4 linked regions of the Homo sapiens genome follow. The protein of the gene in region 1 purifies or fractionates together with the protein of each later gene. This does not show direct contact. Each region holds a gene or a part of one and is shown on either strand. Other genes may lie near its edges.

The links.
Region 2: the proteins of NUP107 (region 1) and SEH1L purify together in Homo sapiens (affinity purification with mass spectrometry; 5 studies listed by BioGRID and IntAct, with this or other methods). This does not show direct contact.
Region 3: the proteins of NUP107 (region 1) and SEC13 purify together in Homo sapiens (affinity purification with mass spectrometry; 10 studies listed by BioGRID and IntAct, with this or other methods). This does not show direct contact.
Region 4: the proteins of NUP107 (region 1) and NUP37 purify together in Homo sapiens (affinity purification with mass spectrometry; 7 studies listed by BioGRID and IntAct, with this or other methods). This does not show direct contact.

Annotation. Positions count from the first base shown.
Region 1 is NC_000012.12:68,738,967-68,745,992, reverse strand, and holds the end of NUP107 (nuclear pore complex protein Nup107), read right to left. Parts: intron 4,181-7,026; coding exon 4,013-4,180; intron 3,639-4,012; coding exon 3,531-3,638; 3' UTR 184-3,530; downstream 1-183. UniProt on the Homo sapiens protein: Plays a role in the nuclear pore complex (NPC) assembly and/or maintenance. Required for the assembly of peripheral proteins into the NPC. May anchor NUP62 to the NPC. Involved in nephrogenesis.
Region 2 is NC_000018.10:12,950,990-12,958,015, reverse strand, and holds part of SEH1L (nucleoporin SEH1), read right to left. Parts: intron 6,162-7,026; coding exon 6,111-6,161; intron 2,554-6,110; coding exon 2,407-2,553; intron 1-2,406. UniProt on the Homo sapiens protein: Component of the Nup107-160 subcomplex of the nuclear pore complex (NPC). The Nup107-160 subcomplex is required for the assembly of a functional NPC.
Region 3 is NC_000003.12:10,318,104-10,325,330, forward strand, and holds the start of SEC13 (protein SEC13 homolog), read right to left. Parts: upstream 3,010-7,227; 5' UTR 2,950-3,009; coding exon 2,947-2,949; intron 2,939-2,946; exon of another isoform or gene 2,768-2,938; intron 2,562-2,767; exon of another isoform or gene 2,406-2,561; intron 1,214-2,405; exon of another isoform or gene 1,177-1,213; coding exon of another isoform or gene 1,036-1,176; intron 1-1,035. UniProt on the Homo sapiens protein: Functions as a component of the nuclear pore complex (NPC) and the COPII coat. At the endoplasmic reticulum, SEC13 is involved in the biogenesis of COPII-coated vesicles.
Region 4 is NC_000012.12:102,110,093-102,117,118, reverse strand, and holds part of NUP37 (nucleoporin Nup37), read left to right. Parts: intron 1-4,886; coding exon 4,887-5,011; intron 5,012-7,026. UniProt on the Homo sapiens protein: Component of the Nup107-160 subcomplex of the nuclear pore complex (NPC). The Nup107-160 subcomplex is required for the assembly of a functional NPC.

The sequences.
Region 1 (7,026 bases):
TAACGCCTACCTGACTGGACCAATCTAGGACCCCTTTCTTGATGTTTGTTTCCTGTGTGTCATTGACCCGATTTGCTAGACAACTTCTCTCTGGCTGTGCAGACACTGTTAGCCAATTTTACGTATTAAATGCTGAGCAAATTTAGTAGCCCTCGCCAGAGGGGGGAAAGAACTTATTGAAAGCATGTTTTTATTTTTTATTTTTGGAAAAAGACATTCAAAATTTACTTTCCAACAGACAGCATCATCGGGTATAACTACAAGGGTTTCTCCTTAGATCATACATTCACAAAGCATTATTAGCTCAACAGTGAGAAAATGTGTTCTCTAAAGATGTCCCCTTGACAATGTAAACGAGTGCTACTGTGTTCACTTACAACTCGAGAAAAAAACGTACAACCTGGCAAAACCGTATATATATACAGCTGTCTCTAGGGGTGCATACAAATATATATATATGTTTTGGATCAGGTCAGGTGCAATGACTAAGAGATAGAACTTTGAGTAACAGTCTTGATCGACAGTAAGGTCCTTCACACAGAAGTCAGGTTCTTCCTTTCTCCTTCCTCCTTAAGTCGATAAAGAAAGATTATATATTGTAGATATTACAGGTACAAAAGGAGATTTTTAAAAAAGGAATCACAAAAACATCTTGAATGTCCAGCTGTTCCTGCCAATACATCAATTCTTAGTTTTAAGACAGAGTCTAGGATTAATTCAGCAGTCATAAAATTAAAAAGAGAGACTGTGGTACAAAAAATTTAAAATAAATGAGGAAGTAGGGCATGGTGGCGTGGGCCTGTAGTCCCAGCTATTTGAGAGACTGACGTGGGAGGATTGCTTGAGCCCAGGAGTTGGAAGCCGGGATGGGCAACATAGTGAGACCCCCATCTCTAAATTAAATAAATAAATGAGGTAGGGAAATTAAAACTTTCACACCCAGGACATGCCTGTTCCAACTTTGTAGCCTTCATGCAATGCTCAAGGAAAAAGTCTTCATAATTCCTTGGCATAAGTCACACCAAGAAAAGTTTTTAAAACTTAGTATGCGAACCTGTGATAGGCAACACGCCCTTCCCTGAGTTTCCTCTCTAGAATGAAAACCCAGTTCTTCAAGAGTAGGCACTGAGGAACTAAATTAAGTTGCCTGAAATTTCCCACTCAGGTGCCCACCACTTCTGGTGTTCAGGAAGAGAGGCATTTGGGAATTGTGAGGAGCACATTGGCACTCTTGGGGCTCCAACTGAACTGTATTTAAATAAGCAGCAACACACACATTGACTCCCTAAGGACTCAAAGGAGTCCAATTGGCTGGGTGCAGTGGCTTATGCCTGTAATCCCAGCACTTTGAGAGATCGAGGCGAGTGGATCACTTGAGGTCAAGAGTTTGAGACCAGCCTGGCCAACATGGCAAAACCCCGTCTCTACTAAAAATACAAAAATTAGCCAGGCGTGGTGGCAGGCGCCTGTAATCCCAGCTACTAGGGAGGCTGAGGCAGGAGAATCGCTTGAACCCAGGAGGCGGAGGTTTGCAGTGAGATATCATGCCACTGCACTCCGGCCTGGGAGACAGAGCAAGACCATGTCTCAAAAATAAATAAATAAATAAAAATTAAAAACAAGTCCATTTGAGGGCATCCTAATTAAGAGTCTAAGGTTGAAGGAATTTTGTAATTCCACAACCTTAGTGGGTTTCTGTGCTGTGTTTTTTAAAGGACATTCAAAAAACAAGGCACAACAAAAGACAAATACAGAGTGGGGGACATGCAAAACAAGTTCCTAAATAGATGACAGACCTTGTCCATTTACCCACATACGGTTACGATGGAAGCATACAATATTCCTCCTCCTCATTTAGGCTAAGTAGTTTTCCCACTGTTGTTCAACAAATAGGTAACAGTCTTTGGAAATAGTCACCCTGGGTTGTACAAAGTTTCTATATATACAGTTTGTTGCAAGTAACAAAACTACTTTTAAGACTCACTTATTTCCCCTCCCCACCCCAAATCTAGTCTGTATTTGTTTTGGTATGAATTTTTTGTTTTTATTTTTTGCAAAGTAGCATAGCAATAATCATGATTACAGGACTGCATGAGCTGTAAAAATCATTTGCATATTAGTAAGAATAAAGAAAACAGGAAGACAAGATGAATTCTTTAGAGAAATAAAACAAAAAAAGCACATAATATAGAACTGATCAAATTCTATGATCCCATCTCAGGCTTCCCAAGCCAGCTGTCTCTAGGGGTGGCATCTATAAATACATATTCAAGAAATTCCTTAGATGATTAGCAAGTTTGGGGAATTACTGTTTTCTATTAGAATCACATTCTTTTAGTTGTCTCCTGTTTATAAGCCCTACACTCTAGCCTATTTGGTGTATTTGTTGGTTCATAATAATGCCCAGCATTTATCATTTCTTGCTCATACTGATTTCTTAATCTATAGAGCCTCATCCTTCTTGTGTCACTCTTTGCCTTTGCAAATTCAGTGCATTACTCAAACCCCAAACCAATACTACTTCCTGAGAGTCTTTTCAGCTGGAGAGAGGTTCTTCCTGCTCAGACTACTTGTAATTCTTTCTTTTTTTGGAGACAGTGTCTCGCTCTGTCCCCAAGGCTGGAGTGCAGTGGCGTGATCTCGGCTCACTGCAACCTCTGCCTTCCAGGTTCAAGAGATTCTCATGCCTCAGCCTCCCCTGAGTAGCTGGGATTACAGGCACCTGCCACCATGCCCGGCTAATTTTTGTATTTTTTTAGTAGAGACAGGGTTTCACCATGTTGGCCAGGCTGGTCTCAAACTCCTGACGACAGGTGATCCACCTGCCTCGGCCTCCCGAAGTGCTGGGGTTACAGACGTGAGCCACTGCACCCAGCCACTACTTGTATTTTTAAATGACACCTTTTAAATGTACTTATGGTATTTCCCCTATTAGAAGAGCGGGATCTGTAATCTCCAATATATTCAGTGCTTACTGTGTGCCAGGTACTACGCTAAGTCTTTATATGCTCTTATTTTGATAGGAAGTTTGCTAAATGAAAGTTAAACTAGAAATGTCTTCAAAATAACTAAAATAATAATAGCATGTTATGTTAGAAAAATTCTTGTTATAGTCATCTTCTTAATTTTAATATTCAAAAATACTAAATTTTATGATAAATAAAAAATTACGTACCTGGCTTAAAAATAAATCTACTTTCCATCATCTTTATGATTTTAAAATATCAGAATGCTTATGATTACAGAAAAAACTAGAACAGAAAATTTAATTTTCTTATTACATGAAAAAGAGACAACCCTGGAATTTGTAAAAACAGAAAATTTTAATTTTTATATAGTTTTATTAACAAGCACACAGAGAAACGCTGATATCCCTACATGTTGAAAGTGTCACGATAATATTCTGAAAAGTACAAAATTCAAATGTCTAAATTTTACATGGTAATGCAAAAGAAAAAATTACTAATAACAAGTATATTTTATTAAAAACTTCATTTATCATGAAAATTAGTGAGATTACAAAGATTAAACTATAACTGAATTTCATACCCTAATGGGTCAAGTCCCTGGTCTAGGAGCATTAGAGAGGACTCTCTGAGCTTCTGCAGCAACTTCCTTAGCTCTTCCTTAGAAAATACCTGATTTTTAAAAAGAGAAATAAGAATGAGAACAAAGACAAGTAGACAAGTATGAACTTAGTTACCTAATCGATCTGATTAGCTTCATATAAGAAGAAATGCCTCTTTAAGATTTATGTAGCCAGAGCCTAGTAAATTAGAGTGGTTCAGGAATTTCAAGGTGAATTCTCAGAGTCAGTCTATATATTTCTAACTGCTTACAAATATACACACATTTTGGGAAAAAAGTACAAACATTAAAACATTAAAACTGGACTATTACTTTAAGAAAATCCAAGAGCAATTACAAATGTAAACACATCTTCACAAAATTAATATTACTACAGAGCATATCAAATCATTAAAATTTAAAACTACAAGGCTCTAGAACTTACCAGGTACAGTTTGTGGCGCTCAGAGGATACCATATCTGCTAACTGTAGGCATTCCTGATACTGACCAGTACTGTGCAATATCGTATGAAGCAGAAAACACAACATTGGCAGACAAAGCTTTCTCAGTAAGACCATTTGATGTGTTCTTTCATGGTCTTCTTTGGCATCCTACAAACAGACATCAATAAATCATTTTAACAATTTAAGCTAAAGATCCTTACAAAAAGAAAAGCCAGGTACTGAATCAAACCCAGAATGTAATTGGTAGACAAGATTTAACAGCAAAAAAGTATGAAGATGAACAACGTAGACTACAGAGAGGTATGACAGTGAAAATAAAATGCTTCTGCATTTGTATTTCTAATAAACTTACTATGTCCTGAATAAAAACATGCATAAAAAGAATGAGTTGGAAACTGAATATCATTAGAGCAAAAATCAGAACAGAAAACAATCACCACTCCTTTGGATGTTTATACATATAAATAAAGATAGCTCTAAGGAGGCCTGAGAGGACACAACAGACTGACAGCAATGACTGTTGCTGGGAAAAAGACGATGTGGGGAGGGGCACACAGGGAGGGTCAACTTCATTGCAGACTACTTTGCTTATACACATGGAAAATGGAATTTATAATTTCTTTATATAATTTTTAAAAACAGAAAAACAGAACCTATAGATTTGAATAATACAATTAATGAGTCAGAACAGATATATAAGGAAAACAAGCAGAAAAAACAATTGGCATTCCTTTATACATACATGGATCTTTCTTAAAATCGATGTGAACAGTAAAAGTACAGAAAAAAGAGTAAACCTCTTATGCCCACTACATTTACTTACAAAAAATTTGAAAATTAAAATAATTAGAAAGTAACCAACCACATAATTTCTTTTTTTTTTCTTTTCTTTTTTAACCTTTTTCTTCTTTTCTGAGACAGCATCTCACTCTGTCGCCCAGTCTGGAATGCAGTGGTACAATCATGGCTCTCTGAAGCCTTGATCTCCGGGCTCAAGCAATCCTCCTACCTCAGCCTCCCAAGTAGCTAAGAACCACAGGCATGTGCCACCATGCCCGGCTAATTTTTCTATTTAAAAAAAAAAATAATTTTATTATTTGTAGAGATGAGGTCTCCCTATGTTGCCCAAGCTAGTATCGAACTCTTGGGCTCAAGTGATCCTCCTGCCTCAGCCTCCCAAAGTGCTGGGATTACAGAAATTACACACTACAATTTCTGAAATAATCTTAAAAATAGGAAGGAAATCAATAGCACTAATAGTGTAGAAAAAAAAAACAGGACAAGCTAAAATAATAACTGCTCCTTTGAAAAGCCTAATGGAATACCTAAAAGTATCTTCATGTGAGAGGCTATATTAAATTGCTAAAACATTTTTCAAATGGACATGTAAGTGGAGGGGTTAATCAACAACAAAGTATAATCTGGTAATTATACCAAGGAGTAATTGTACTAATTTGGGCTAATCTAGGTCAGGTTTCCAAACATAGGAAAAATTACTATCAATATTTTGGTCTTGTTTGAAGCATAAATACATAAAAGCAAATATTAAAGTGCTTCTTTACAAGGGAAGCACCTTTATTTCTTTTCTCAAATAGATACTTGCTACCTTCAGAGGTGGATTTAAAATGCTTCAAGGTTTTACTTGTAATTCATATTAGTGATCCCAACCTAGAACCCAGTAAGAATAAGAGAACTGCTTCTTTCTGGACCTTTCCATTTGTGCTCCAATGTAGTCTTTCTGTCTATGTTAAAGAGGCCGGGTGCCCCTGGCTTCTGACTCCTTGTTGCCCGAAAAGCAGCAGGTTACTTTCTTATCTCACAGGATGGACCCAGACTTGCTTTTACTAAATCCTTTTGCTGCCATAATATCAGAGTGTGCTGCAGACAATCTCTTCTGCTAATTATAATGAATTCCGATACTAGCGGGCGGGCTGCCAGCAACTATCCAGGGTAATGGCTGACAGACCCAGCAAATTGCTACAAGGAAAAGCAAATAAACAGCTCTGCTACAACTGAAGACATTTTTCTCATCTGAATGAACAAAAGCTTTGAAATAGCCGGTAAATATGTAAAACAGACGGATTATTTCCACTAGGGATATTTCCACTTTTTTTTTTTTTTTTGAGACGGAGTCTCGCTCTGTCGCCCAGGCTGGAGTGCAGTGGCGCGATCTCAGCTCACTGCAAGCTCCGCCTGCCGGGTTCACGCGATTCTCCTGCCTCAGCCTCCCGAGTAGCTGGGACTACAGGTGCCCGCCACCACACCCGGCTAATTTTTTGTATTTTTAGTAGAGATGGGGTTTTACTGTGTTAGCCAGGATGGTCTCGATCTCCTGACCTCGTGATCTGCCCACCTCAGCCTCCCAAAGTGCTGGGATTACAGGCGTGAGCCACCGCGCCCCCCCATGTAGTGCCTTACATGTGAGAAAAACTCATTACCTAATATGTGTTGATAGCAAGAGTTGATTGGAACTGATATTACAGCTATTCCTAATCTGAAGACAGTACATTCACCTCAGTAATGCAGTATCATTCATTTACTAAGTACCACTGAAAGCCTCCCATGTGCTCAGCATTATTTTAAGTGCCAGAGTCAAAGAAATAAAGAAAACAAGGTTACTCCCTTCATGAAGGTTATATTCTAATGAGGGTAGACATACAAAAAGCAAATAAATTAATATGTTTTATATCAGATTGTGCTAAGTGCTATGAAGAAAACTAATGTAGGATATGGAGATTAAAAGGGACAGGTGTGTGTGTGTGTATACACATGCATACATGCTATTTTAAATAGGGTGGTTGGGTTGGGGAGAGGTTCTTGAAAGAGATGACATTTGAGCAGCTGCTGAAAGAAGTACAAAGTCATCCATGCACCTATCTTGGCGAAGGAGCATTCTAGGCAGAGGGGAACCAATGAAGAGGCCCAGAATGCCAGGATATAGTGATGGGAGAGCAGTAGGACACAAGATTAGGGGGTTAGTTTAAAAAAAAAAG
Region 2 (7,026 bases), on another chromosome or scaffold:
TGCATCATGGCCCTCGTAGTGGCTCACGCCTATAATCACAGCACTTTGGGAGGCCGAGGTGAGAGGATTGCTTCAGTCCAGGAGTTCAAGACCAGCCTGGGCAACATGGTGAAACCCCATCTCTACAAAATAAAAAAATCAGCCTGTGGTGCATGCCTGTGATCCCAGCTACTTGTGGGGCTAAGGTGGGAGGATCACTTGAGCCCAGGAGGTTGAGACTGCAATGAGCTGTGACTGGCTCTAACGTAGTATCATGCCATTAGGGAGGGCAGGTGAGGGGTAATAGCAGGACACTCCCACTACACACTTCCTTTTGTTTCTTTTGAATTTTACACCATGTGCATGATTATCTATTACAAAAAACAAATCATAAAGGGGGAAAAAAAGCATGCAGATGATAATACCTTCATATGAAAATGCTGGAAAGAGTCTTAAATATAATCTAGTTCAATGTTTTCACTTTATAGATGAGGAACTTCAACAGCACACAGATTATATTATGTTCTTGCCCAAATTCAAACATCCAATAAGGCAAAGACAGCGATAAAAGCAGATGTAGATAAAGGAGAGTGTATTTTTTTTTTTTTGAGACGAAGTCTCGCTCTTGTTCCCCAGGCTGGAGTGCAATGGCACGATCTCTGCTCATCACAACCTCCGCCTCCCGGGTTCAAGCGATTCTCCTGCCTCAGCCTCCTGAGTAGCTGGGATTACAGGCATGTGCCACCATGCTCAGCTAATTTTTGTATTTTTAGTAGAGGGGGAGTTTCTCCATGTTGGTCAGGCTGGTCTCAAACTCCTGACCTCAGGTGATCTGTCCATTTTGGCCTCCTAAAGTGCTGGGATTATAGGCGTGAGCCACCGCACCCGGCCGAGGACAGTATATTTCCTAAGAAAACAAAAGTAACCACAAAACAAAAGAAACAATTTTTATAGAATTTTTTTTTTTTTTGAGACAAGTCTCGCTCCGTCGCCCAGGCTGGAGTGCAGTGGCGTGATCTCGGCTCACTGCAAGCTCCGCCTCCCGGGTTCACACCATTCTCCTGCCTCAGCCTCCAGAGTAGCTGGGACTTACAGGCACCCACCACCATGCCGGGCTAATTTTTTGTATTTTTAGTAGAGACAGGGTTTCACCATGTTAGCCATGTTATTTATTTTATTAGGTGGGTATTTTCTGTAGAAAGAATTTGCAAGTAAAATGGTGGACTTACAGAATCTTTGTTTCAAAGGTTGGTTACGCTAAACTCTGAAGCAACTCTCCAACTATCAGCACTGGAAGTAGTCAAGTTTATCTGGCTAGATTTTTCTTTTATTAGTAAAATGTCAGAAGAACTGGACTTCAGAAGCATTACAATCCTAAATATAGAATGTCTTCTAAAGGTTAAAACATTCTGGAATTTAACTTTTTATTTACATGTTATGTTGATCAGTTTTCTTCTCTCATAGAAGTAAAACTATATTCTGTTTCCTGATGTAAAACCAGTGTTTATGAAATATGAATAAGTATTTAGGAAAAAAGAAGCCCTGGGATAATGAGTATCTGTTCTTTTCTTTTTTTTTTTTTGATTCCCCAGACACACAGTGGATCTGTATGGCGTGTGACATGGGCCCATCCTGAATTTGGCCCATTAAATTTATTTAAATTTAAATAAAATTTAAAGAATTTTATTAACCCTTGGCCAGGCGTGGTGGCTCACGCCTGTAATCCCAGCACTTTGGGAGGCCGACAGGCAGATCACGAGGTCAGGAGATCGAGACCATCCTGGCTAGCACAGTGAAACCCCGTCTCTACTAAAAATGCAAAAAATTAGATGGGCGTGGTGGCGGGCGCCTGTAGTCCCAGCTACTCAGGAGGCTGAGGTAGGAGAATGGCGTGAACCCGGGAGGCGGAGCTTGCAGTGAGCCAAGATTGTGCCACTGCACTCCAGCCTGGGTGACACAGTGAGACTCCGTCTAAAAAAAAAAAAAAGAATTTTATTAACCCTTAAGAGTTTAAAGTTAAAAAAAAAAAAGAATTTTAGAGTTAGGCACAGTGGCTCATGCCTATAATCTCAGCAACTCAGGAGGCTGAGGTGGGGCCAGGAGTTTGAGACTGCAGTGAGCCAGAATACTTTAAAATCATATATTACTATCATAAAATATACTAATAGGTAAAATCAAATACAATGCAAATATTCTGGATTCATCATAAAAGTTATAAACAATGCAGTGATGCTCCTAAGTATTGCTTCAGACCCAAGTTAAAATGAAATAAAAAAGGAAGAAAAAAACATGGAAGAAAGAACTTTAGAACTGGTAAAACTAGAGGGGAGTGGTGATATTTTACCAATTATCTGAGGTAGCCTTCGGATGAATGCTCCTTGGCTGCTCATGTCTTCCCGGTCCCCAGAATACTAATAAATGTCTCACCCAGTGGCTCTGTCCTCGCAGTTTATCATTTGATTCTCCTACTATTTCTTCCCATACAGCAGCTGTTCGGTCAAAAGAACAGGAAGCCAAAACCTGCCCAAATTCAGGATGGGCCCATGTCACACGCCATACAGATCCACTATGTGTCTGGGGAATCAAAAAAAAAAAAGAAAAGAACAGATACTCATTATCCCAGGGCTTCTTTTTTCCTAAATACTTATTCATATTTCATAAACACTGGTTTTACATCAGGAAACAGAATATAGTTTTACTTCTATGAGAGAAGAAAACTGATCAACATAACATGTAAATAAAAAGTTAAATTCCAGAATGTTTTAACCTTTAGAAGACATTCTATATTTAGGATTGTAATGCTTCTGAAGTCCAGTTCTTCTGACATTTTACTAATAAAAGAAAAATCTAGCCAGATAAACTTGACTACTTCCAGTGCTGATAGTTGGAGAGTTGCTTCAGAGTTTAGCGTAACCAACCTTTGAAACAAAGATTCTGTAAGTCCACCATTTTACTTGCAAATTCTTTCTACAGAAAATACCCACCTAATAAAATAAATAACATTAGATTTATTTGCTCCAAAATCCATACAGACAGAAAGTAGATTAGTGGTTACCAGCGGCTGGGAGCAGAGTAAACAAGAAGTGACTGCTAAATGAGCACAGGGTTTCCTTTAGAGGTGGTAAACAATGTTCTGAAATTAGAAGTGGTGGTGGTTGCCAATTAAATGAATATACTTAAAATCACTAAATTGTACACTTTAAATGGGTGCACATTATGATATGTAAATTATAGCTCAATCAAAAAAATACTTTTTTTTCATTTGATTCAACCAGGCATAGTGGCTCACGCCTGTCTTCTCAGCCCTTTAGGGGGCTGAGGTGGGCAGACTGCTTGAGCCCAGGGGTTCAAGACCAGTCTGGGCAATATGGCAAAATGCCATCACTACAAAAAATACAAAAAATTAGTCAGGTGTGGTGGTATGCACTTACGGTCCCAGCTGCTTGGGAGGCTGAGGTGGGAGGATCACTTCAGCCTGGAAGGTTGAGGCTGCAGTAAGCCAAGATTGTGCCACTGCACTCCAGCCTGGGTGACAGAGCAAGAACTTGTCTCCAAAAAAAAATTATTTGCTTCAAAAGTCTAACAATATATAGAGATTATAGCCATAGAATGCTTAAATGATTTTAACTGACAATACAGTCTATCGATAACAGACTATTGTAGGAAGAGCAAATATGGGGAAGCCCAAATCCTTACACCCCTCCTGTTGGCCAAGGGGTGGGAGGGGAGGTGGCTGGAGAAGGGATACAAAGGTCTTAAAGAATTTCACCATCAAAAGAATTTGCTAGGTGCTTCTCAGGGAAAATACTGTATAATAACAAATAACATTCAGAAAATGTGTTTCACACTGTATAGCTAACATTTTTTACATTCAACAACATAAAAATAGTTTAACCAATAACTTCTACATGGTAACAATGTCACCAACTAAAGGTACATTTTGCACCCTTTTTTTTTAACCTTGTTTTGTCCAGTCTTTTCTGTATCATCTTTAATTCTTACTTATACAGGGCTATAAAATTAAAAATGCACACTAAGGCAGATAAGTTTTATTAGATTTACAGTAAAATGCAATCTAAAGAATAAGGTTTGCACAAAGATGCTCATCACAATAAAATGGAAACTGAAATATCCACTAGTTAAGCAAAATGGTATATTTATTGGCTGTTAATAAAAAGCCTTTAAAGATATAGAAAAGTACATATGAAATATATTAGGCTTAAAAGCAAGAGATGGGGTTTCCTTTTGGAATAATAAAAATGTTTTAGAACTAGAAAAAGGTGGTAGTTACACAACACTGTAAATGAAGTAAATGCCAATTAATTGTTTACTCTGAAATTATTAATTTTATAAGTTAACCTCACCTTAAAAGGGGGGGGGACCTTGGATAGACCTTTCACAAAAGAAGATACATGAATGGTAAATAAGCATATGAAAAAATAATCAACATGAGGTATTAAGGAAATACAAATCAAAATCCAATGATTTTTGTGGTCACTTCTCAACTACTAAAATGGCTATAATAAAAAAGACAGATATTATCGAGTGTAGGTGAGGATGTAGAGAAACTGGAACCTCACACATGGCTGGTGGGCACAGCCACTTTGGAAGAGTTTCGCAGTTTCTTAGAAAGCTAAGTGCATATAGCCCATCAATTCCACTCCTACGCATCTATCCAAAAGAAATGAAAATATATGTCTACACAGACTTACATGGCACGTTCTTAACATTACTCATAACAGCCAAAAACAACAACTCAAATGTCCGTCAACTGGTGAACAGACAAACAAAACGTGGCAATATACATACAACGGACTACTCAGTATCAAAGGAACAAATTGACACATGACACAATATGGATGAACCTCAAAACATGCAAAGGGAAAGTGGCCAGACACAAAGGACTATGTATTTCAAAATTCCATTTCTATGAAATTTCTAGAAAGGATAAACCAGGCCAGGCATGGTGGCTCAAGCCTGTAATCCCAGCACTTTGGAAGGCCAAGGCGGGCGGATCACTTGAGGTCAGGAGTTCGAGACCAGCCTGGTCAACATAGTGAAACCCTGTCTCTACCAAAACTACAAAAATTAGCCGGGTGTGGTGGCATGCGCCTGTAATCCCAGCTACTCAGGAGGCTGAGGCAGGAGAATCGCTTGAACCCAGGAGGCAGAGGTTGCAACGAGCCAACATCGCACCACTGCACTCCAGCCTGGGCGACAGAGCAAGACGCCAGCTCAAAAAAAAAAAAAAAGAAAAGAAGAGAAGAGAGGGTGGGAGGGGAGGGGAGAGGGAGGGCAGAGGAGAGAAGAAACCTATGGAGACAGAAAATGGATCAGTGGTTGCCTGGGGCTTGGAGTGGGAATAGGATACAAAGGAATTTCTGAGTTTGAGAGAAAAGTTCTAAAACTGGATTACAGTGATGACTACACAACTATGTAAGTTTACTAAAACTCACTGAACTGTACATTTAAAATGGATGACTTTTAAGGTATGAAAATTTCTACTTGGCCGGGCACAGTGGCTCATGCCTATAAACCCAGCACTTTGGGAGGCCGAGGGAGGATCACCTGAGGTCAGGAGTTTGAGACCAGCCTGGCCAACATGGCGAAACCCCATCTCTGCTAAAAACACAAAAATTAGCCGGGCATCGTGGTGCACGCCTACAGTCCCAGCTACTTGGGAGGCTGAGGCAGAAGAATCACTTGAACCCAACAGGCGGAGGTTGCAGTGAGCCAAGATCACGCCACTGCACTCCCACCTGGGCAAGAGAGCAAGACTCTCCGTCTCAAAAAAAAAAAAAAAAGAAAATTTCTACTTGAGTAAAGGTTTTGTTTTTTTTTTTTAAGAGAAAACTATGTATGAAACATCACAACAATTAAAATATGTAAAGGCAAAAGGAATATTCTGAATTACTAAGATAATTATGTTAGAATGCTACAGAATTACAGATTTTCTTACTCTCAAATTCTGAGAAACACAGTTGTTACTTTAATAGCGAAAAACAGTAAAATGTCTTCCCAGGAAAAGAACTACTGTATAAATGTTATTTTCTCAAAACAATTCATAGATAACTATAAAATAAACAGTAAATATTTCTGTATTTTTAATAAATGTAAAAATAAATACTAACCTTCCAGCTAGCAGTACAATGCCAATCACCACTTTCACTTTTATCCCAGACCTATAAGAAAATAAAAGGCAGATATTTTATACAAAAATTCCTACAAATTGATACAAAAACTATAAGACTGAATCAGTGTACAAGGAAAGCGGTGAACATATAGTTAACAAAAGAACACAATCAGCAAGTAAACATTCATTCATTCAATTAAGTATTTATTGAGAGGCTGGGTGCGATGGCTCATGCCTGTAATCCCAGCACTTTGGGAGGCCAAGGCAAACGGATCACCTGAGGTCAGGAGTTCGAGACCAGCCTAGACAACGTGGTGAAACCCCGTCTCTACTAAAAATACAAAAATTAGCCAGGCATGGTGCCGCATGCCTATAGTCCCAGCTACTAGGGAGGCTGAGGCAAGACAATCGTTTGAACCCCAGAGGCGGAGGTCGCAGTGAGCTGACATCACGCCACTGCACTCCAGCCTGGGAGACAAAGCAAGACTCCGTCTCAAAAAATTTACATTGAGAACCTTGAATGTGTCAAGCACTGGGCCAAGCACCAAGGGATTCAGGAAGCTGAGCTCTATTAGGTAACAGAGACAATTAGTTACAGTCACTACGCTTGGAGGCCATTTTAAACAGCAAAATCACCAACAGAAAGAACAAATAATCATTGCACTAAATAAATCATGAAAAACACCTGCTTACAGTATGAGCCAAAATAGAGTATCGCCTGGTTTCACCTCAATGGGAAACGTCTGTCCTGAGACTCAAACTTTTTCACCACTCCTCACACATGCACAAATGACTGCAAAACCAGTGTGACTTTTGGGGTACAAGTAAATTTCAGAGTAGACAAATTCAAAAAATACAGAATCTACAAACAACAGGCTCAACTGTACATGTAACAAATGGTAAAGCAAAAATAT
Region 3 (7,227 bases), on another chromosome or scaffold:
AAGATATCACTGGTAAATTAACTCATGGCAGTTAGAATACAACCATCTCAAGTTCTTGACTGCATTTGTTTGTTCACTCACTCATTCATTCATTCATTCAGTAAGCATTCATTCTAAGTACCTTCTTTCTGCCAAGCACTGTGCTAGGAACTGGATATACAGACACAAATAAGAGGAACTTTTTGCCCTTGAGAAGCTCGCGAATAATGCTAGTGTCGCAAGATAAATTATTTAATGGTGGTTTGTGTGTCCTGTAGGAGCCTGAGGGGCTGGGGTGGTAGACACGAATTGAGCCCTAGATGATGGGTAGGAATTTGCAGGTGGCACAGGGGAAAATACCAGTCCAAGCAGCCAAGCAGAGGGAATACACGAGTAGAGACAAAGAGGTCTGAGAGAGCCTGATGTGTGTGGGGAAACGGCAAGCAGTCCTGGCTACCCTTAAGGTTGAGGAGAGACCCCAAGGGAGCTACAGCTGGTGTTCCTTTCCTGGATGACAGAGCCTCTGATGTTCCAGGCAGTTTATGCATAACGGGGTTATTACTTCAGACTGGGAGACTTGATTCGAGTGTTTCCTGAGGCTGCTCCCTGGTCCGTCACGTAGTGGGATCCAGAGTTGAACAGTTTGTAGGGCTGGAACATGGTGTCATGGTCATCTCCCTCCTATCTATTCTTTGAGGTCCAGCTCAAAAAGGGCCATCCATCACCTTTCTTGAAGATTCTCAGACCCTCAAATGGCTGGACTCTCTTGCATATCTTCAGCAAGGAACACATACAACACTTTATGCTGTTTCTTCTCCCCACTAGAAGGTGAGCTCCTTGGAGCCATGGTCTGAGCCATCTGCAGTTTCAAATCCCCTCAAATCATCCAGCACAGTGCTTTGCAAATAGAAGGAACTCAGCGACTATTTGCTGAATGAATAAGTAAATGAACAAAAGCTGTTATTTTTTTTCTTTGCTCAACCACTCTTCTCTTAAATTCTTGGGATAGAAAAGAGGACTTAAAAGAAGTTTCAGTGTGGAACAGACATTTCTTACCATTTTCCCCATTTCATCTTTTCCAGCACAAGCCCTGTAGGTATAAAGTTTGACTTGTGATTTCAGAAAGGCAGACAGTGGAAGAGGATGGCTGCAAAGCAGTTCAAGAGGTACACACCAAGTAAGCACAGGTTCTCTCATCAGATTCTAGACTCTCTAAAAACCAGGTCCCCGAAGTCTGCAAAGGCAAGTAAGGACAATAAGGAGTTTCCTCCATGTGCCGAGCTGTATAGGTTACAAAGTGCACAGGAAGGCGGGGAGGGCAGGGTACCAAGGGCACAGTCAATCAGAGACCTGCGACAGACTAAGGAAATGAAGAAGCCCAGAGAAGAGAAAGCACTTGCCAAAGTCACAGAGCTAGTTCAAGGCAGACCTGGGAAAAGAGCCCCATCCCCTAACCTTCTAATGCTGAGTCCACAAAACTTCACTCCACCAGGCTGCCTGTCTAGAATGTAAAGCAGTTGTTACACTGAGTTCTGTAAAGCTGCGGTTAAGTAGGTTCACGAAGAAAGTTTACTGAGAGGTAGTTTCAACCAGGTTACCAAAGGACCTTAGAAATAATCAGCATTTAATTCTAACCACTCTCACCCACCAGTCAGGGTTGATGAACCACACTTCTGAATGAGAGAGAGAGAGAGAGAGAGAGAGAGAGAGAGAAGGCGGGGGGGGGGGGGGGGGAGGAAAGAGGGAGGGGGAGAGAAAAGGACGGAAGGAAGGAGGAAGGGCGGGAGAGAAAGGGAGAGGGAGAGGAAGGGGGGAGGAAGAGGGAGCGGGGAGAGAGAGAGAGAAGAGAGGGAGGGGGAGAGAGAGAAAGGGAGAGGGAGAGGAAGGGGGGAGGGAGAGGGAGTGGGGAGAGAGGGAGGGTGGGGAGAGAGAGAGAGAGAGAGAGAACTTCTTAGAGTACTTCTTCCCAGGGACCTGGTATTATCTGGTCCCTGTTAACACCTGCACTCAAAATAATTCACCTCTTTGAGATCAGATAATGAGTTAAAAATTCATTTAGGATGAGCTGAATGTCAGAGCATAAAAGCCTCAACTCTAACCTGCAGTGGAAGAGCCAGAGGTGAGTGATTTACACCTAACCCTCTGCAGAACAAGAACACAGTGTTCTGATTTCTAGGTTCCTGCAGGTTCCCTCAAACCTGCTGCTGAGACACACCCATGTTTCTAAAAGAATGCATGTACTAGATATTCCAGGCTCAGCCCAGATACTTCCATTCTTTAGTTCTCCTTCAGTCATTCATTCACTCAAGGAGTAAGTGTGGAGTGAATGTACACTGCAGATGCCACAGAGACTTAAAAAACCCTGAGCCCCTGCCTTCGGAGGGTCGTTCAGGCCATCTTTACGTTTCCCGAGGTGCCCATCCTACCTGGGGGCCCTACCCCGAGCAACAGTTCAATCATCTCTGCTGGGAGCTGCAGTAGGCGGCAGAAAGGAATGGTTAGGAGGGTTCAAATCTCGGCTCTACTACCACTTAAGCAGCTGTGCAAGAGGCTCCACGTCTCCGAACCTCAAGTGTCCTCATCTGTAAAGTGTTGAGAAGAATAGCACCTTCTTCACAAGGCTGTTAGCAGGCGGAGATTACGAACAATGCTGAGGGCTCGGTATACAGTAGCTCCTCTGCTGTTCCTCGTTTTGTTTTCAATTGTTGACCGAAAAGAAGGAAGGGAGACTGGCAGGAGACGCAGGAGCGGCGCGCCCCGCAAAGTCAGGGAGGTTCCTCGGCCTCACCTCTGGACTCCCCTCGGAATGGTCCGCAAGGACGGGGCCAGAGCCCCCCAAATCTCTAAGCGGTGGAGGGGAGCTGAACGGCTCCAGCTTGGGATTTGGGACTCAGGACGGCCGAGGAACCCGTGAAGGCCGCGACCGTGGCCTTCACCCTGCTAGGCCTCCTCAGTACCAACACTCACCATGATTGCGGCGGTGGCTGCTCCAGGTCTCGGACGTGGCAGCTCCCGGCGGCGCCTCGGAACAGCTCACTTCCGGCGCCGGGCCCGACGGGCCGTGGCGTAGGAGCCTCCGGGCAGCAACGCGCTCGGCTCGCACAGCAGTTCCGCGCCTTCCAGAGGGCGCGCCCCGCCCTCCCGTGGCCCAGCCCCTATCCTCCAGTGACGTGCGAGACCAGAGGGCTGGGGCTCTGGTTGCCGCAGTTACCCTGACCCGGAGGGCTTTGGAATCTGAAGCTCTGGTGGGTCTACTCTCCCGACCAAGTCTGCCCTTTTCCTGAGATCCATAAATGAAAGAAAGGATTAATATAACTATCGGCCGGGCGCGGTGGCTCATGCCTGTAATCCCAGAACTTTGGGAGGCTGAGCTGGGGGGTGGATCACCTGAGGTCAGGAGTTCGAGACCAGCCTGGCCAACATGGTGAAACCCCGTCTCTACCAAAAATACAAAAATTAGCCGGGCATAGTGGCGCGCGCCTGTAGTCCCAGCTACAGGCTGAGGCAGGAGAATCGCTGGAACCCGGGAGGTGGAGGTTACAGTGAGCCGTGACTGCACCATTGCACTCCAGCCTGGGCAACAGAGAGACACTCTTGTAAAAAAGAAAAAAATCTATCTATCTATCTATCTATCTATCTATCTATCTATCTATCTATCTATCATCTATCTATCTGCAGCTTCACCCGCCTCACTACGGCTCTGGGTGCGACTGGTCTTATGATGAATGTTGTAGGATGAGTGACATCTTAGGAGTAAGTAGACTGTCCTAGTGCTTCCTTGTTGTAGTCTCCCTCTCAGTACCCAAGGACTGGGACCAGGGCAGAGGAGGCCAGGGAATGCCCCTCGCCAGAGGCTGGGACCTCTGGCCCTGCCATCCCTAACCCCTATATAGGACTGCCCCTTCCAAACCGATCCCCTGGGGTCCTGAGTAAGTCCCATCAAGGAGACCCCCCTAGGCAATGAAGGATCTCAGCCAGGCTCCTGCAGCTAGAGCCCCAGACCTAATCCTCAGGGTCCCCAACCCCAGGTCTCTGGCTTCACAAGGTAGGGCAGCTGAAGGCTCCCCACAAGCGCAGTGAGAATGCCACACTGGAGGACAGAGCCTGGGCTCCCCGCCTCAGCCACATATGGTCTAGCCCTGGGCCCCTTGTGACATTAAGGAGGCAGATGAGCTGGGGGAGGCCTTGGCTCCCCTTGGGCAAGTCACAGTCCTTCAGTTTCCTCTGCTGAAACTGGGAGTAAGGACCCTAGCTGGAGATGGTCACTGCTTGAAGGAAGATGTTAAGGCTCAGAGAATGTGATAGACCCAAACTGTCAAGGAGCTTTGGAGGGGAGGCCAGGGGAGTAGGGTGTTAGAATTAAGGGCCAGGCCTCTGGGCAACTCTTCTACCCCACTGCAGCTTTCAAGATTTTTTATTGCCCTCTAGTGGAGAAATTGTTGCAGGGGTGTGAGGGGGTGGTGGTTAGGTTAGAGCAGGGAACAAAGGCAGGTTTCAGGGGATCTCTTGGATCTCCTGTTGTTTTTTTTGTTTTTTTTTTTTTGGAGATGGACTCTAGCTCTGTTGCCCAGGCTGGAGTCCAGTGGTATGATCTTGGCTCACTGCAACCTCTACCTCCCGGGTTCAAGCAATTCTCCTGCCTCAGCCTCCTGAGTAGCTGGGATTACAGGCATGTGCCACCATGCCTGGCTAATTTTTGTAGTTTTAGTAGAGATGGGGTTTCACCATGTTGGCCAGGCTGGTCTCAAACTCCTGACCTCTGGTGATCTACTCTCCTCGGCCTCTCAAAGTGCTGGGATTACAGGTGTGAGCCGCTGCGTCCTGCCAGATCTCCTGTTCTTCAAGGAACAGGCTCTGGCCTTGGCTCTATAGCTGCACCACTGACTTTCTAGGTGATAAGGCCAAGTCACTTTTCTCTGAGCCTCACTTTCTTTGAGTGGAAAATGAGGACAAGGGCATATTAGATGTAAATATAATGCATCAGGCATAATTGTGATTAAAAGAATTTCCTTGTGTAGACACTGATGTTGAAGAGATTGGGGATTTGTGACAAGCAACAGAACTGTATCTTATTCATTAAGGTATTTGCTGTAAGGTATTTGGCCCATAAGGCGCTGTAATATGGCAGTTTAGAGTACAGATGCTGGCATCAAGACTGCTAGGTATCAGTGCTGGATCTCCTGCTTACCAGGTGGGCATGCTCTTCACCTCTTTGAGATGCTGTCTCCTGCTCTTTTGAGTGAGAATTATAATAATACCTCCTCTGAAGGTTGATATTGGGATTAAATGAACCCTTGGATATGAAACTGCGTATGGAAGTCAGATGGGCCTATGGCGCTTGATTTGGGGATCAGTTCAACCTAAGAAGAGCTGTGTGAGTGTGTGAGTGTGTGTGTAACTCTCAACCCTTGGGCCAACCTTAGGGATTACTTGTTGGTCTGGGCATATTCTCTTTCTCTGCCAATGTTCAGCAGAGGTTTGTGAAGTCCAGACTCCTCAGGTGCCAGGCTTCCCTCTGCCTTACCCCTCTCCCCAGTAGGGGGGTGCCACCTAGATCCAGTGTCTGTATTCCGCATCTCCTCCCTCTGGTTAATCCAGACCCCAAATCAGGCCAACTTTCCCTGATTTTTGCCCCCCCACCCCTTGCCCCCAAACCTCCTCCGCTTCGTCCTGAGGCCCCGTTCCCCAGTCTTCTTCTATGAGATGGTCAACCATTCCTCATAGGTTAATGGCTCATGGCAGGGTGAGCCTGTCTCCCTCAAATGGTGGGTGTTCAAAAGGTGTGATCTAGTGGAAGGAGAGAGACTGCCCGCTGAGCTGTGGGCCCTTGGGCAAAGTGCATTTCCCTCCCAGGGACTCAGTTTCCCCCTGAGTTCAACTCCACGAAGGGCGGGGACCCAGCTGTCCTTCAGAAAAAGGCCTTGTGATGTGTACCGTGTCTGCATTTCCACGTGTGCATTTATTGTTATTGCTCAGTATAGTGTTGAAAAGGCAGACAAATCCCATTAATTACAAAGAGCACAAGCCAAAGATACAGAGAAATAAAGAGTGTACAATAAGAGCACAGTCACTTCCCAGCCCCGATTGTCCCAGAGCCCCCCAGAGCCCGGGCAGCTTACGGAAGCTGGAGGCGGCACCATTCCCTCGCTACTCTATTATAAAATATGTGCACACAAGAGTTAGCAAAGTGTGGTGACCCCCGAGAGGAAAGGTCCAGGAGGGAGAGCACCACAGGCATTACAAAACAGACTTAGGGGGCTGAGAAGGGCAGTCCCAAAGCAGCCTCCAATATTGTTTTCAGTGGAGGGGGTGATGGCTGCTGCCTGGGGCTGGGGACCCTCCTCCCCCACCTGGGTTGGTATGATCTCTACATTAAAATCAGGAGAGCTTGGTTTGGAACTTTGAAAAGGCCTGGGGACTTCCTGCTATTGTCTGACTTCCCTCCTGGCTCTGGAAGGCCTAAAAGCCTTCAAGAAACGCTCTTCCCTACAAGAGCCTCTAATGGTGGGATTTTGGACACAATGGCAGGAGAGAGATTTGGGTGGGAGGCTTGTCAGAATGCACCAGGTTGGCAGCCTCCTGCAGGTAGCGCAAGAGTGGGCTAGGGGAGTGAGGGTTCCGAGAAGGCCCAGGCAAGAACTGCCTGCATCCCAAAGGTACTGGAGACTCCAAATTAAAGAGCAAGAAACTATCCCCCCAAAACAAAATGAAACAAAAACAACAAAAAACCAGTTCAGGAAAGGGAGATAGGAATAAAGGTTTCTCCATGATGAGAATTAGAAGTGCAGACAACTGGGCCACACATTCTTTCCCAGCTCCAGGCCTAGGAGAGACTCCTCTTTCTCGTCTGGACCAGGGACAGATGGCGGGTCCACCCCAACACAACCAAGGTGGGTGACTTTGGTTCCCAAGCTGAGATTGAGTGGGGGCCTGGTGACCTCTCATGACAACTCCTGGGCTTAGGGGGCAGGTGAAATGATGGGAGGAACAGCAGGCTTCTCTCAAGATCAGGATGCCCTTTTTGTCCCTCTTTACAGAACATAGTCTATTTCACAGCCCTGAGTGGACAGTAATTACAATGGGGGGAAGATGATGGCACAGGGAATGACAGAGCCCAGAATTTGGGGGTGGGAATGGGACAGGGGGTGGAGGACTGGGCACAATTTAAAGTTTATGTGGAAGAATAGATGTGAGAGAATAACTAGGAAATTTTGTAAAAGAAGAGTGAAGGGACTCATCCCACCACAT
Region 4 (7,026 bases), about 33 Mb from region 1:
TTTGGAAGTGTCCAATTTTCAAAGATTTAAAATAACTATCACTAAAGTGATAGTTATTATAAATGTTATTTCCTCCTTTACTGAGAAGGCAATTCTGTTTTTGTTTTGTTTTGTTTTGAGACGGAGTCTCGCTCTGTCATCCAGGCTGGAGTGCAGTGGTGCGATCTCTGCTCACTGCAACCTCTGCCTCCCGAGGTCAAGCAATTATCCTGCCTCAGCCTCCTGAGTAGCTCGAATTACAGGCACGTGCCACCATGCCCAGCTAACTTTTTTGTATCTTTAGTAGAGACGGGGTTTCACCATGTTGGTCAGGCTGGTCTTGAACTGACCTCGTGATCCGCCCGCCTCAGCCTCCCAAAGTACTGGGATTACAGGCGTGAGCCACCATGCCCAGCGGCAATTCTGTATCTTACAGTATTCTGACATCAAAAATGCAATTTGGCATTTTATAGCACAATGAATATATAAAGCTTTACAAATTGGAATATAGTCATATTTAAGAGGAAGTGTGAATTGAAAGTTTCAGTTTGTTGCTGTCTGAGTAGAATATGACAGCTCCTAGCCTATTTCGTACTGTCTGTTTGGGTGGGAGTAGAAATTAATAGCTTTTAGACTAAATATGACCCTAGCCTGACTTACATGGACATGGTTTAGGATCATAAAAAGTCATATGATTAAGACAATGTTACGTACTTGAAAAAGACTGAGGAAAAACCATTTCTCTAATGCAAGCCACCAATGTACAAAAGAGTAAAGCAGCCTCCTACAGGTAAAACTAATTTTTACTTCATTACTTTTAAAATTAATAACAACATAGGATTGTATTCGCAAACACTGAAAAATGTTTATCTCATTTATGATTAAGAAATGTTGAGGGAGAAAGTCAGTGGAGAACAAATTAGGAAAAGAGAGGCAAAGATGAGAGAGGGAGAAGTTGGGAGAAAGAAGGAAAATGACTAACATGAGAAAAAAGAACTAGTATAAACATTTGTGTTCTGTTATAGTTTATGGTCACATGTATTGTCTCAGTTACCCTCATACCTGTGAGATTAGCAATGTAGGTCTCGTGCCCAAATTACTAAGGAAAAAATTAGATTTTTATTAATTTGGACAATAGTAAACACAAATTATATTCTGCATCAGACATTGGAAATACAATTAAGTAAGTCCATTTCAAAATAAATTATTGCTTTTCTGTGGAGTTATTTTTTATCTAGCTAAACACTGTTAAACATTACTATTCTGTTGTCCTAGAACCTTCAAGTTCCATTGCACCCAGTTTCATGCCTCTTGTCTTGAGAGAAAACTAAGTAAAGGTAAATTAAGTGGAAAGATTTTCACATTCCTGACAGAAAGATAATCCTTATTTTAAGGCTGTTTAGAAAACGTTGTAGATATAGTGAATTTGAATTTCAATAAAGCATTTTTCAGAATCTCATGTTGTCCCTTTGATTATGATGGACATATGAGCTTCTGAATGATAGTACTGTTAACTGGTGTCGTGTATTTGTCAAATTTTCATTAAGTGCATACTGGGTGCCAAGACATGAAAAAAGCAAGGACCATATCCTTAAGGAAATATTTACATATAAAGCAGTGCAATAAGAAAACTGCTATAAAAACCTTTGTTAAAGGGCAGAGGAGCATGAACATATATGCTTGCCTAAATCAATGTTCTCATCCAAGTTCTACTAGAGGCCTCAATTCACTAATGAAGACCCCTTGAATAGACTTAGAAATCTGGTATGTATTTTACACTTTTTAAAGTGTACACATATCAAATAGAACTAGCCACATTTCACGTGCTTCATAAGGTCCTGTGTGGCTAGTGGCCACCATATCAGACAGCACAGTTCTCTCTGCATCTTCCTCTGTAAATCGACAGTAATCTTTAATATAATAATAATACTCTGTAGTTCTCAGCAGTATATTATGATTCAGAGAAGATAATGTATTTTAATACAAATTTCAGGGTAGTATCTAAATGTTTAAAACTGTGAAAGAGGTATTAGACTCAATGGTAAATGGATTTTATGTTATTTGTCATCTCTATTTGAATGGACAGAGTTGTTGCTTATAATGCTTTCAGGCTGAGGCTGAATCTGCTGCTTAGTGTGTCTTCACCTAGAGGAGATCAGCTATGGCCAGATATTTGTCATCATTAAGTTAGACTGATTTGGTGTGGTTCCAGAGATGGAACGTGGAATAATGAGTAGAATTTACATGGAAACAGATTTTGGCTTAACGTTAAGAACTCTTCTAATAATTAGAGCTATCCCCCAATTGAATAAACTTCCCAAAGAAATAGCTAGTTCCCTGTCACTGGAAGTGTTCAGAGAGGGGTTGTGTAAACTCTTTTTTTCAGATGCTCTCCTAGGGATTCAAGCATTGGGGGGAAAGAATTGAACTAGAGAAACTTCACAGTCTTGACTAACTGAAATTTGTATTTGGCCTTAAATGGGTGTGGTGGGAGGGCCTGCCAGTTTCAAACCCTTATAATAGCCCTTCCATCAACCTGGCTTTGCCCCAACCTCAAATATGCCGAAACCTTGTATAATCATTTGTATTATAGCAAGTTTTCCAAAGTATCTTAATTTCCTGCCTATACAATTCTGCTTATACCCCAAACTAAATCCAAAATAGCATTTGTCTCTGCCTATACCACACACACACACGGGCCTTTTAGTTGGCTCAGTGGCAAACAGTGCTGCCAGGAAAACAGGTTTCACTGGTAAAACAAAAAGCCCAGGCTGTACAGTCCCTGAGATTTCTTTATCCCCATGACCACCCAGTAATTCCATATGTGATTTGGGTAACAAATTAAAGGACTTGATTGTCAACAATATTGTTACAGTAGCAAGATGATGTGTATTTACATGCAAAAACTTCATTTTTAGGAGACTGATTTGTCAAGTTTGGAAAAATAGATGTAATCCAAACTGTGAAGTCAGCTATGATTAGGCTCCTAAACTTATTTTAAAATTGTTTAGTGGCTGCTGTCTTGGCATATCTGGCTGTTAGCTATACAACTATTATACACACAAATTACGAAGTAGTAAAATTTGACAGTGTTTTTCTTTCCTTGATAAGTGTATTTCTTTCATTTGTGGAAAAACTTTTTGCTGTTAACTCTTAAGTTCACCTGAAATTTGAAGTTATTTTCAAAGGGTATCTGAATTATGCAGAGAAAGATGTGTAGTATATTTGTGAAATGACTTTACTGGGATCCCATAGGCTATCCTGGAAAAATCAGTATATCTACTTGGATTTCATTCGAGTATACATTATAAAACTTTGCATTTAGATTCTGGGTGAATGGAATGCTTAGATCAGGCCTTCAAGTAATTCCTATCAATATAGACATACGTATTTCATTAAATATCAAGTTTCACCTGCTGGATTTTTTCCCTGATACTTTATAATACCATACACTTTTATAAAGAAAACTGTAGTTAGCACAGAAGATTCCTTGGACAAATTTGTCGCGAAAATTTGGCCTTCTTTAGTCTCAAACCCAGTTCAGGTATTGATTTAAATAACAGAAGGATGATTTACTTATTTTTAAAATTGCAAAATTTTTTTATCATTTTCTTTTTTACCTTTCCTATGGTGCTGAGCAGTATTTTAATGCTTATAAAAAATGTGTTATCCATAAAGGCATAAAGAGTAATAAGATGGATCCCTGTATACCTGCTGCTTAGTTTAAGAAAAGGAACATTAGCAATTCTTTTGAAGCCCCCTAAGTATCCTTCCCTTACTCATGGTAGGTATTTTGCATGGCAGGATTTTCTTTTTGTTTGTCTGTTTTTTCCTGCTTTCCCCTTAATCGGGCCCTGGATCTATGCAGAAATCTCTGATCTGGCATCCTTCCTTGTGCAGGCACTAGGATTTGTCTCTTCTCTCTTGCAAACTGAAGCTTTAAATCATTGCATGTAGGCAGATACCCTTATAACAGCTGCATACCTTGGTAGTCGTTTGCTTGTCTGTATTTGAATTTTTGCAATGTTGTAATGGGAGAACTTTTCAGGTTATTGTCTCCATTGCCAGCGACAGATGGCTTGACTTTTAAAGTTGATTTTTTTTCTCACCTTCCCGTGAGGATAAACTGAAATCATTTTAGTAGGGCTGAACTGGATAAATAAGCCAACTTTATTAAGCATTTATTCCCAGAATCAAATATCTAAAACTAAATTAGCCAGATTATTTATTACATATTCACTATTCATAAACAATAATAGTTCAGATGAATTATTTGTAGCATCTTACACACATATAATGCCACATGTAACACTACATGAAAATCATTGACACTGATTATAAAGACTTTGAGGTCTTTATAAGGTCCCAAAGTATTTTCCATGTAGTGAGAATGTACAGTGTATTTTTTTAATATTGTCAGTAGATAATCCGGTTCTGGTAATTCATTTACCTAGAATATCTTGATTCTTTAGAGCATTCCATTTTCTTTGTTTTCTTTTTTTATAACGTAGACACAGGTCTCACTGTGTTGCCCAGTCTGGTCTCAGACTCCAGAGCTCAAGCAATCCTTCCACCTCAGCCCCGCAAAGTGTTGGGATTATAGACGTGAGCCAACACGCCTGACCAAGCAGTCCATTTTCATTGAACTTATTATGAAATGCCTCCTAAGATAAAGTAGAACATGTTTACCATTTGTTTCTAGTTGCCTTAGAGAGTTATTTTGTGAGGCTTAGACAACTTTGGATTTTTTTTTAATTCAATGAACTAGTTAAATCTTAATATGTAATTTGCTTTTGAACTTTTCAAAAGCATAAGCATAACCTCCTGATAAATTCATTATAATGAAATACAGAATATTATATTGTTTGTTCTCATTACTTATTAAAACATTTACTGTGTATGCTTAGGAAGAAGAAGCAGACGTTGAAGGCATTCAGTATAAAACACTTCGAACATTTCACCATGGAGTCAGGGTTGATGGCATAGCTTGGAGCCCAGAGACTAGACTTGATTCATTGCCTCCAGTAATCAAGTAAGTTTAACAGTACCAAATGCATTCCTTACTAATGTACTTTGATTGTGTTACATGATTGGAAGTCTGATCATAGATACTTTTTTCTCAATTTCCATTTTCCACAATCCAAGATATTAGATATTTTGATATTTGCTACTACTTAATAATTTAGGCTTATCATCTGAATTTGTGATTTAAATATACAGCCATGACTATGATGCCTTGACCATGTGTTTGAGCCAAACTACAAAACCTTTTACGTGAGATTCATCTGAATCAAGGTCTTTACAGATTGTTCACTGAATTTACAACTTTATTGAAAGTATAACTTAAAATAACTAAATTTGGTTGAGACATTAATGAGCTTTCCTTCCCCACCCATAGGCCAAGATCACATTTTTTTGTCCAACAGTATATAAATCTGTAAGTTCTGGTCCTGGACTTCAGTTTTTGTGAAAGTGTTTAAAAGGAATGATGGTTTTCTGAGAAAAAAATCCTAGCAATGCCTGCTGAAGCCCTCTTTACAGGGGCAAGAATATGTTAGGTTATTTAAGATCTGTTACAAAACACTAGCCTTGCCTTCTACAAATGTCAAATCTAAAAGATGTGTCTTCTTTTAGTAGACAGTACTTAGGAACTAAAAGTTATCAACTATTAAGCTAACTTCGTTTTTTTTAAATTAAGGGATAATTTAGATACTCTGAAATTCTCAGCTCTTAAGGGTATAGTTTGATCAGTTTTGACAAATACGTATATTTGTACAACCCACACCCTATTCATGCACTGTTTCTGTCACCCAAGAAAGTTTCGTCATACTTCTTCCCAGTTAATCATTGTACCCCACTCCCTGCAGAAGCAACCATTGATCTGATTTCTATTACCAGAAATCAGTTTTGCCTATTCTAGAACTTCATATAAGTGGGATCATACAGAATGTCTTTTGTGTCTGGCTTGTTTTTGCAATTTTTCCACATTGTTATGTATACCAGTGCTTTTTAAGTAGTACTCCATTACAGTGTATCAATAGACCATAGTCTGTTTATTCATTCTTCTGTAAATAGGTACCAATACAGTTTCTAGGCTTTAGTTATTATTTTTTGCTGAATACTGCTTTGGGTGGTTATATGATTTAATTTAGGAGTAGAATTGCTGAGTCACAGGGTAGATGTATGTTTAACATTTTAAGAAAATGCCAGTTTCTAAAGTGGTTCTACCATTTTGTCTTTTCCCCAATAATCTAAGGGTGGTCTTCCTACTCTCCAACACTCATTCATTCATTTTGAGACAAGGTCTGGCTCTATTGCCCAGGCTGGAGTACAGTGGCACCATCTCCACTCACTGCAATCTCTGCTTCCCAGGCTCAAGCCGTCTTCCCACCTCAGCCTCCTCCTGAGTAGCTGGGACTATAGGCGCCCATCATCATGCCTGGCTAATTTTGGTATTTTTTGTAGGGACAGGGATTTGCCTGTTGCCCAGGCTGGCCTCAAACTCCTGAGCTCAGGCAATCCATGTGCCTTGGCCTCCCAAAGTGCTGGGATGACAGCATGAGCCACCATACCTGGCCTATTCTCCAATATTTGCTATTGTCAATCTTTCTTTTTTTTTTTTTTATTTTTTTGGTACATGGTCTCACTCTATCTCCCAGGCTGACAGCCAGACCCATAATCACAGCTTACTGCAGCCTCAACCTCCCTTGGCTCAGCCTCAACCCTCCCTCTCACCTCCGCCTCCCAAGTAGCTGGAACTACAGGCATGCACCACCACTCCCGGCTAATTTTTTGTATTTTTTGCAGTGATGGGGTTTCGCCATGTTGCCCAGGCTGGTCTCGAGCACCCAGGCTCGAGCAATTCACCTACCTTGACCTCCCAAAGTGTTAGGATTACAGGCATGAGCCACTGTGCCCAGCCTGTCTTTTTAATTTTAGCCATTCTGGTTGATGCCACAATGACATTTCCATGATGAGTGATAATGCTGACGCTTTTTTGGTATATTTGTTTCTTCTATTAGAAATCTTTGTGTGATTTCTTATAGG